Regions from separate parts of the Homo sapiens genome. Here region 1 is linked to region 2. Evidence: fine-mapped expression QTL. A gene starts in region 2. The other region holds a variant in brackets. All regions are shown on one strand. Distances are from middle to middle. Region 1 overlaps LOC105369468 (a long non-coding RNA gene). Region 2 holds the start of CASP1 (caspase 1).

What was found. PIP is the estimated chance that this variant, and not a neighbour inherited with it, causes the effect.
Region 1: its variant is fine-mapped to the expression of CASP1 in whole blood (INTERVAL, PIP 0.98).

What each region holds. Positions count from the first base shown.
Region 1 is chr11:105,178,957-105,184,343 of GRCh38, reverse strand. The region is part of intron 4 of LOC105369468 (a long non-coding RNA gene); the gene reads left to right. LOC105369469 (a long non-coding RNA gene) reads right to left here. Exons shown (of 5, transcript XR_007062872.1): 3 at 823-974; 4 at 421-571. Among named protein-coding and RNA genes, the nearest start is that of CARD18, 42 kb to the right of the region's middle. The variant T/C (reference allele first, on the strand shown) is at 2,567.
Region 2 is chr11:105,032,467-105,037,795 of GRCh38, reverse strand. CASP1 (caspase 1) reads left to right here and starts at 2,652. Exons shown (of 9, transcript NM_001257118.3): 1 at 2,652-2,689; 2 at 3,322-3,588; 3 at 4,670-4,732. The coding sequence starts at 2,683. It overlaps LOC124902742 (a long non-coding RNA gene), which reads right to left. Exons shown (of 3, transcript XR_007062869.1): 3 at 2,115-2,155. RefSeq lists an enhancer at 2,524-2,573.

The DNA.
Region 1 (5,387 bases), 150 kb before region 2:
CAATGTCCACATTTTAAATTATAGAAGCCCTCTCAACCTCTAGTCTCTTTCATTGTGTGGTATTTTATTTAATTCTGGTGTGGTGGTGGTGGTGGTAGTGTGTGTGTGTGTGTGTGTGTGTGTTAGGGAAAGGAACCTTCAAAAATAGGAACTGCTTCAGATGGATATGGGCAGAAAAAAATCATTAGTATATAGCAGTTTCCATATTCTCTTGTTTTTTTTTTACTTCGTAACTGTCACTAAAGAAGGAATATACATACTGTTAGTTTCCTACTGCTCTCTTAACAAATAGCAATAAACTTGATAGCTTAAAACAACAGAAATTTATTATATTACAGTTCTCAAGGCCAGAAGTCCAAAATCAAGGTGTCAGCAAAGTCATGCTCCCTTTGAAGGCTGTAGGGTAGAATCCTTCCTTACCTCTTCCACATTCTGATGGCTTCAGCCTTTTCAACTTGCGCCTGTGTAACTTCAATCATTGTACCCTTCTTCACATGGGATTCTTCTCTTCTGCTTCATATCTTCTCCTCCTCTGAATTATTCCATCTCAAAATCTTTAGCTTAATTATATCTGCAAAGAAGATTTTTTCTAAACAAGGTCACATTTACATTTTTCAGGGATTAGAATATGAACATACCTTTTGAGGAGGGCCATCATTCAATCCGCTGCTAATCAGGCCAAAAGCACAAGCATATAGCTAGAGGAAAATCTTATCTACTTCTCTGCATCTGGCAACCAAGTTCCTGATTCGTTTCCTTACATGGATAATTCCAATTAGATAAGAAAATCTCAATTAAAAAATATAGTCGACTGCTGCTTACCTTCTTTTTTTCTGAGGCACACAGTGTCTTGATCCTTCTACTTTCTAAATACATCTCTTTGTATCTTTCATGGCTCTCTTTTTGCTTCATTCTTTCCATTTATTTTTCTCATTTTTTCTATCTTTGGTGTATAGACCTTGACTTTACTGTAGCTAGAAGGAAAAGGAAAAATGTTTCGGTTGCATGTATATTATCCACTGCTTCAAATCCAAATCACACTGTAACCAGTTTTTTTAAGCAGGGATAGGGGTTGAGAATGTGCTGTTATGTATGTGCACAGTGAGGCCAAGTAAAAAAATTGAGACTACTAGAGAAATAAATTGACAGACAATAAAATAAGTAAAATGATTTACAACTTATTTGAAAAATATGTGATGAGCTAAAAGGACAGATTTGTGTCAGAGAGAAATTATGTGAATCCTAGAACTGGAGAATAGGGAGAAATGATTGCAAGGAGAATAAAATCAGGATAAATCACTTGACAATACCCTTCCAAAATTATCTGAAGAATTGAGAACTTCACTAATTAATAAGTTTCTACCTTAACTGCTAAATTTATATGTAAATATTTTTCCATTTTCACAAGCATTTATTGAGTGCCTACTGTGCACTAGATACTTTTTAGTGTATTGATTCTGGTATAAATTCAGAAATGCTATTGTGTTGGATCCTAGGTATGCGTGTGGTAACCAAAGTCTGCAAACTCTGTTCCCTGGTTTACACAATAGAGAAAATATAGCATATGATAGAAAAACAAATGTAAACAAGTAAAACAAATAGGCAAACAAGGAATTTTCAACTGAGTTTTGTAAAAGTCAAATTATACTCAATGGACACTATATTTGAATGGTTTAAGATGTTTGGAAATTAGTTAAATGTCAGAACAGTTTTTGTGCACAGGGTGATTTTAATAAAGATTAGAAAACTGTAATAATGCTGCTGAGGATCAATAAATAGACCTTAATATTAGAAAATAATATGGTTGTATTCTCATACTGAAGTATGGAAGAAGAATGTTATGATTAGTATAGACATTTTTTCTTGCCATGGATGTTATGTAAAAACAATTTTTAGAATTTATTGAAGCTATAACAATAGAAAGTATTTCTAAAAAGTTCTTATTCACATTCTAAATTTTCATTAGAGTCATAGGAAGCTTCAGCATAAACCTTAAGATTTTACATTTCAGCTCAAGTAATATGCACATAAAATTTGACATTTTCCAAAGAAGAGGAAAATTTCAGATCAAACGTTGATACATACTTTTTTTCATCATTGCTTTTCTCCATTCCTTAAATTCTTATTCTGGTTTAACGTCATGACAATCTCTCATTTCACTGACATTTCATAAAAAGAACACAAGGATTTTCTAATAAAGGCTTTAGAGATCTCTAATTCTTCTTTGGAAATTGGGCACTTACTTTCTGTGCATTTAAATCACTTCTAAGATAATTATCTCTCCTAGTCTCTACAAACATAAATATAACTGTTCTGCTTTCTAAGTCATGGTTTTCTTTAAGTATACTTGCTATATCTTCACTTTCTGTGCATGAATATCAGATTAGGTCTCATCAAAAGCGATCTTTGTTTGAAAAGTAATTTCAAAGCCAACTAGCATCATAACAACACATTTTAGCTTGCACCTTTCCGTCCTGCTCAGAAAACACAAGGTGATGTTTGTCACTTATATTTAGAGTCAAGTGATCTCCAAGAAGCATACTGGATAAGTTCACATAATGCCAGG[T/C]TCCTGACAAGAGTTTCTTGTTGGTTGGCTTCAGTAGCTCTTGCTCAAGAATTGCAGAAGTACATGTTTCTGTAACACATACTTCCTCAATAACCCTATTAGGTAATCTTAATATCATTTCCCTGTACTCTGGGAGGCTGTGTTTTTGCTAAAAAATCCCTTTGCTTTTTAACTTGAAAAAATAATCAGAATTTATTGACTCTGTGAATATCTTTGAATAGACCACCAAATGATAATAAATCAATAAACAGAAGCACAATCTGTATTTTTGGAAACATGTTTATATCTTAAAATAGGCTAAAAATATTGTAATATTTTAAAAATTTATATATGGCTCATCAGAAGCTCATTATTGCTCATTGTCTGCTAGAGAATATACTTCTTTAGTTCTTTGTAGGATTCAGAGCTATTTCTGGATCTCAGTTATAAGGCACCGGCTGAATCATTCACATTGTCTCTGAAACTTGGGTTGGCTCAAGGCCAAGTTGTTCAGAAGACTTTCTGCTAATCGTATTTTAGTCTTGTCTTTGTAAAAGGCTATGAATTATCTTAATAGAATATCTGTTAAGCAATAGTTTAGTGAGACCTTAGCTTTCACTTTAATAACCCATTGAAAGGAAATATAAGTGTAAAAAAGCAGTCTTTATGAGTGGTTTAGATCATAGACTCTGGACTCAGACAATCCTGATTTCTTTTTTTTTTTTTTTTTTTTTTTTTTGAGACGGAGTCTCGCTCTGTCGCCCAGGCTGGAGTGCAGTGGCGGGATCTCGGCTCACTGCAAGCTCCGCCTCCCGGGTTCACGCCATTCTCCTGCTTCAGCCTCCGGAGTAGCTGGGACTACAGGCGCCCGCCACTACGCCCGGCTCATTTTTTGTATTTTTAGTAGAGACGGGGTTTCACCGTTTTAGCCGGGATGGTCTCGATCTCCTGACCTCGTGATCCGCCCGCCTCGGCCTCCCAAAGTGCTGGGATTACAGGCGTGAGCCACCGCGCCCGGCCGACAATCCTGATTTCTAATTCTCACTCTAGCAATTGGTGGTTATTCAACTTTAATAAACCTGCACAACCTTGCTCACAGATTAATTTTTCCATTTCTACAATGAAGACATGATATCTCATACTCTCACAGTATTATTTTGGCCATGAAACAAGCTCATACTAAAATGCTTAACACATCGTACACATAAATATTAACTAATATTAAAATCTAGTTTATTCAAGAAGAATATTTTGAGAGGAGTTTGCTTTAGTCCTTGACATGACTTTCTGTACACTTCCAGGCAATCAGTAATAATAGATAGATAAATGAAGAAACTAAAGCACAATTATTCAAAAGAGATAAACACAGAACTCCTCTTTGATTAGAAGGATCTTGCCCGCACCTAGAGTAGAAACTTACTTCTTCAGAATAGTTTGTCACAACTATTATCTTGTATTTTTATCATAGATCTTATTTATTTGACTTTTAAAACAAGCATACTTTTAAAATATGTTAGAAGGGGAACAAAACTAGCAGAGCTGGGTGATATGAAAGTGACCTTAAGAGCTAATTGTTTAAAATTTTGCAAGAAAATACATATTATTTTGCAAATATTCCCTGGAATGTGCACTTGACCTATCTTTTCTTCAAACGAAGTTATTCTGGACAGACTGCTAGCATATGATAAATGTGTACTATGAGTAAGTTACTATTGTAGGACTAGCTGAACAAAGACAGAGGACTTTTTTAAAAAAGCAATCAGCTGTTTCTGGGATGTTTCACGGTCCCAAACTGGAAACATCAATTAATATGTTAAAGAGCTAATCTTTATTTCTACTTCTACATAAGTACAGGAGCAATATATCTCTGGAAGTATATAAACCATTTCTCAATAATACATAATTTTATTTTGTTCATATATTTGTGTCCTTCACACTTTGTGAAATTTACCAGCGAATGCATTATCATTCATTTTAATAAGTTTATTCCGCAATTTCAGGGGAACACAGGGCAGCTCTAGTTCTCAATACATAAAAGGAAAGCAAGTGGCCCGCTGGCTGAAAGGTAGCTATGTAAATATTAGCAAGCAGAGTTTAAATGCTTGGCATTTATCCAATTGACCAGAGGATTCTATATCTACACCATTAGAATAATCTTTAGAAGTCATAAGAGGAATCCCCCAAAGTGTCATATCCCTTCCTTTAAAAATACCATGCATGTCACTGAGTGTACCATATGGTATTTATATCACTTTTTAGTTTTATTAGTTTAATCTGAACAGAAAAATATTCTTATGTATATGGGTGCAGCAAATGGTTGAAATGATAGAACTGTGTCTAAGGCAAAGTTATTTTAAAAAAAACATACTTGTAAGCCTGTGCAACCAGATAGAACATTTTATGGCTAAAAGCTTAAAAATATATTTCAGATAGAGAGATCAGTAGAGAGACAAAATATTGATCAGATATCCAGATTATACTAGAAAATTTTATTTATATGCAGAGCTAATTTCCATTCCGTTACAATTAATATTGTTTTAGACATGTATGAAAATAATATATTAATAAATATTTATTAACGTATGCTGGGGAATGAGATAAAAAAATGAATCTGTTCTATAACAATATGCATCTCCAGTTCTAGAAAAGGTTAAGACAAAATTTAAGGCATTGAAAAGAATTAGCTCTTTATCTTCTTTTAATTTTTAGACTGGGTCCAGAATCAAAAATATATTTATGGAACTATCAGGTTGATTTCAAAATTTAATTGGTCTCTAAGATGTTGATCCAATATCTTTTTCACTTTTCACCTAAAAATAATTATTTATTATGTTATATATGT
Region 2 (5,329 bases):
TGAGGACTCTGTGTGGGAGCTCACACCCCACATTTCCCTTCTGCATTGCCCTAGTAGAAGTTCTTCATGAGGGTCCCACCCCTGCAGCAAACTTCTGCCTGGACATACAAGCATTTCCATACATCCTCTGAAATCTAGACAGAGGTTCCCAAACCTCAATTCTTGACTTCTGTGCCCCTACAGGCTCCACACCACATGGAAGCTGCCAAGGCTTGGGGCTTGCACCCTTTGAAGTCACAGCCCAAGCTATTTCTTGGCCCCTTTTAGCCATGGCTTCAGTGGCCCGGGAAGAAGGGCACTAAGCCTTTAGGCTGCATACAGCAGAAGGGCCCTCGGCTTACCTCATGAAAACATTTTTTTCCCTCTTAGGTCTCCAGTCCTGTGATAGGAGGGGCTGCCTGGAAGGTCTCTGACATACTCTGGAGACATATTCCCCATTGTCTTGGAGATTAATGTCTTAGAGATTAACATTTGGCTCCTCGTTACTTCTGCAAATTTCTACAGTTGGCTTGAATTTCTCCTTAGAAAGTGGGTTTTGCTTTCCCAGCACATCATCTGGCTGCGAATGTTTCAAACTTTTATGCTCTGCTTCCCTTTTAAACATAAGTTCCAATTCCAAACCATATCTTTGCAAATACATAAAAATGAATGCTTTTAACAGCACCCAAATCACTTCTGGAATGCTTTGCTGCTTAGAAATTTCTTCTGCCAGATGCCCTAAATCATCTCTCTCAAGTTCAAAGTTCCACAGATCTCTAGGGCAGGGGCAAGATGCCACCACTCTCTTCACTAAAACGCAGCAACAGTCACTTTTATTCCACTTCCCAACAAGTTCCTATCTTCATTCGAGATGAGCAGCATTTAGTCAAAGCCATTCAACAAGTCTCTAGAAAGTTCCAGATTCTATTTTCCTATCTTTCTCTAAGCCCTAAGAACTGTTCCAACCTCTGCATTTTACCCAGTTCCAACATCGCTTCCACATTTTTGGAGATCTTTACAGCAGCACTCCATTACTCAGTATAAATTTACTGCATTAGTCATTTCTCACACTGCTAATAAAGACATACTCAAGGCTGGGTAATTATATAGAACAAAAAAGATATTTAATAGACTCACAGTTCCACATGGCTGGGGAGGCCTCAGAATCATAGCAAAAGGCAAAAGAGGAGCAAGGACACGTCTTACATGGGTGCAGGCAAGAGGGTATGAGCAGAGGAATTCCCTTTTATAAAACCATCGGATCTCATGAGACATTCATTATCAAGAGAACAGCATGGAAAAAAAACAGCACCCATGATTCAATTACATCCCACCAGATACCTCCCATAACACATGAGGATTATTACAATTCAAGGTGAGATTTGAGTAGGGAAACAGAGACAGACCATATCACCAGCCTTCATGTTTGTCTTTCCCTCTTGAATGTGAGACCAAAGGGGAAAGGACCATGATATGTTTTGACTGAACCTCTGGCACCTAGAGCAATGTCGTCCGTATATGTTTGCTAAATGAATGACTAGATGCACTGCTTGAGGATTCTAACAAAAGATAAACTTAGCTAAATAATCTGCAAATAATCATCCTTGATTATTTTTCTAACCTTAAACATTTGTATTAATTATAATAATATCACTCATTATTTGCTTACCATTTGCCAGGCTATGTTCCATGCATTTTCCACATTTTCTCTCACTTAATGCTCAAAACTGTGTAGGTACATACTATTAATAAAATTATTTCACATACAGAGGAACCAATGCATAGGGAAGTTCATTATCTTGCCAAGGAAGGGAAGTTTAAAATGCTAAGTTCGACATTCTCATTCCAGAGCCTATGCTCTGGGCCTCTACAATGCAATTTCCCTCAAAAATAAACCCTCCAGGATGGGTGGGTGGCTCATGCCTGTAATCCTAGCAATTTGGGAGACCAAGGTGGGCACATTGCTTGAGCCTGGGAGCTGAAGACAAGCCTAGGAAACACAAGGAGACCCTGTCTTTACAAGAGATACAAATATTAGCTGGCCATGGTGGCATGTGCCAGTAATTGCAGCTACTCGGGAGGCTGAGTTGGAAGAATCATCTGAGCCTGGGAAGTGGAGGCTGCAGTGAGCCAAGGTCAAATAACTGCATTCCGGCCTGCACGACAGAATGATACCCTGTATCAGAAAAAAAAAAAAACAGAAAGAAAAAAGCAATGTGAAAAGAAGGACATTAAATAAGAAAAGCTTTAATTCTGGTGAAAAATGTTTCTATTTCTTAAAGCAAAAATGTTTCACAGGGACATACATTACCCACAACTTTCCCAAGAGCTATGAGGTGGGGTCAGGGGAACAGTGGTTCACATACTCCAAAGGTTGTGTTACTTTTCTCCGTCAAGCTTTCTAATGATTGAGAAACTCTTCACTGTGTGAATTTAATTGTACACATACTTTTTCAATCCTGTCTTACTCTCCAAGCCCCATTCCCCTCCTACCCTGATCTATCCAAGGGCTGGTGAAGAAAATTTCCCATGGATACACTACCTGATGCAGGCTACAGTTCTGATTCTTTAATGGGAAGAAAAATAAAGACATGCATATGCATGCACAGTGAGTATTTCCCAATACATGTACAGGCCCTGCCAAAAAGGAAGGCGAAGCATACTTTCAGTTTCAGTCACACAAGAAGGGAGGAGAGAAAAGCCATGGCCGGTGAGTCTTTTACTGTTCCAAGAACAGGTCCCTGGGAAGAAAGAGTTTTGGAAGGGGCTGGCTCTTCTGGAAGCCATAATTAGCATCTGTGGAAGTTTACTTGAGTAGAAGCAAGGAAAAGGGGGGAGAGGGAGGAGAGAAGGAACTAGAAGATTCTTGCAGACTTTAGAAAGGAAAGGCAAGCCCAGAAAGGAACTGAGGCTTTAGGGGAAGCCTGATGTCATTTTGCAATCTTAATTAAACTCTTACTTACATGTTGAAAGTCTGACAGAGGGTACAGAATTGGCACAGGAGGAGTACTAGCAGCAGTGGTTCCTAAATGAAATGGGCTATTTCTGCTTCATTACTTTATTAACCAGAGTTAAATAAACATGCGACATAAGAGGATGATCTCTGCTTTCCAGGGACTGATGTGGAAATGGTAAACTCAGTCTTCAGGTCACTCCATGCACATGTATGGAGACTATTGAGGGAAACAAGTAGGACAGCAATACAGTAAGAAGAGGGATTACCCAACTGTGAGGAGGGGGACATTTCACTGATGAAATCTAAATGAGGTCACTTTCTGTTGATTACATGAGAGGAATATGAGGCTGTTTTCATGATGTGAGAAATCCTTGTGCTCTAAACAGACAAGGTCCTGAAGGAGAAGAGAAAGCTGTTTATCCGTTCCATGGGTGAAGGTACAATAAATGGCTTACTGGATGAATTATTACAGACAAGGGTGCTGAACAAGGAAGAGATGGAGAAAGTAAAACGTGAAAATGCTACAGTTATGGATAAGACCCGAGCTTTGATTGACTCCGTTATTCCGAAAGGGGCACAGGCATGCCAAATTTGCATCACATACATTTGTGAAGAAGACAGTTACCTGGCAGGGACGCTGGGACTCTCAGCAGGTAAGGGTCAGTGACTTACACTCAAGTTCACCTAGGGCCTGTCTTCGTGCCTAACATTTGATTTCTTTACTAGTCATGTTAATTGGAAGAAAACTTTCTTATTTCTGGCTTCAGGGCCATATTTCTGTAGCAGGGTCCCTATTGCATGTCCCTTGACTCTCCTTTGATTCTTTTCCTTAATCCTCAGTGGCACTCTTCTGATTAAAGCTCATTTCCTGTTCTGAGTATGTGGTAGCTCCTTTACTGAAGCTCTTGAGAACCATCTGAAAAGCTTCATGCTGTGTTTTCCAGTGTTCCTGGCAAGGCAAAATATTTACCTGTGGATTTATTTTTGCTGAGTGCAAGGGGTCTGTAGGCACTTATGTAGTTGTAAAGTCACATGAAGCTTTAAGGTTTATAATCAAATACTTTTTATAACTTTTCTCCAAAATTTTACCCTCCCAAAAGAATAAAATATATTTCAATGATGGCGATACACTCAGAGAACACATTGAACGTATAGAAAAGTGAAGATTTCTAATGGGCTCATTCCTCCAGTTGCCTCCTTGTATTTTCTTTGAGTAAGATCACCTGGTTGCCTGTTACCAGGCTGTGGGTCATGCTGTGAGGCCTGGAAATCCTCCACTTGCAACCCTCCTCAGGCCCAATACAGGGCTCAGGAACTGAGCTGGCCAAATCTCATGACCACTTGGACCTACCACGTGGTGAGGATGAGAGTTCTGGTGGATTCCCAGTCATTGATGTCTGTGGCACTTCCTAAAGCCACTTCAGAGGGAGATGTTCTTTGAAAGCAAAAGCCTTCTGTTCTAAGGGTTAGGGAAAGCTTATGCCTGTCTAAGCAGACATTGCAGATGTTTCTGTTTTCATCTATGTGTAATAAACACGTATTTTTCTACCAATGCCTCTTTCATTTTCTACCTCCCACCACTCTCTAAATTAAAGAACATCTTTAACATTATTTAATGTCAGTCAGTCAGTCAGTGTTATGGGAGAAATTTTTAGTGGGGAGTGTTTTACAGATTGGGGTAAAGTTTTCCAGAGATGATAAGTGACTACTTCAATACCCTTTATCTTTTCATAGATCAAACATCTGGAAATTACCTTAATATGCAAGACTCTCAAGGAGTACTTTCTTCCTTTCCAGGTAATGCTGTTTTTAAAGGAAGAGCATTCTTTGACCCACATCTTCCTTGACATTAATTTTGTAGGATCAAACGTGGGTAAATGGGCTATGGAGAATTCTCATAGATTGGTCATATAATTTTCTTTTTGTAATCTATTCTGCTTTTGTAGAAACTGTTTCCACAGCTTCATTATCCACATTTATATTAAAAATTCTGAATCTGTGTCTCAAATCCTGATTACCCAAATAAGTACCAAACTTCATTATTTAAGCCTACTGAAATATTCACTCCCATCTCCCAGAGACACCTTATTCTAAACTTTCCCAGAGCTGAAAATGCTATACTTCCACACCCTGCTTCTCTTCCGGTTTTGTGTAACTTGGTTATTGGTGCCACCGTCACCAGTTGTTCAAACCAGGAACTTGAAACTCATATGGGACCCTTCCTTCTCATGCACCTCTAACATTCAACCCATGGCCAAGTTTTATGCAGGCTTTTCTCAAATTTGGAACCATCTCTCTATTTCTACTTCTATTATTTTATTAAAGAACCCCTATTCCCATAGTGCACTCTTAAACTTATATCTGAAAGCAATGTAGAGGCTAGGAATGCAAATT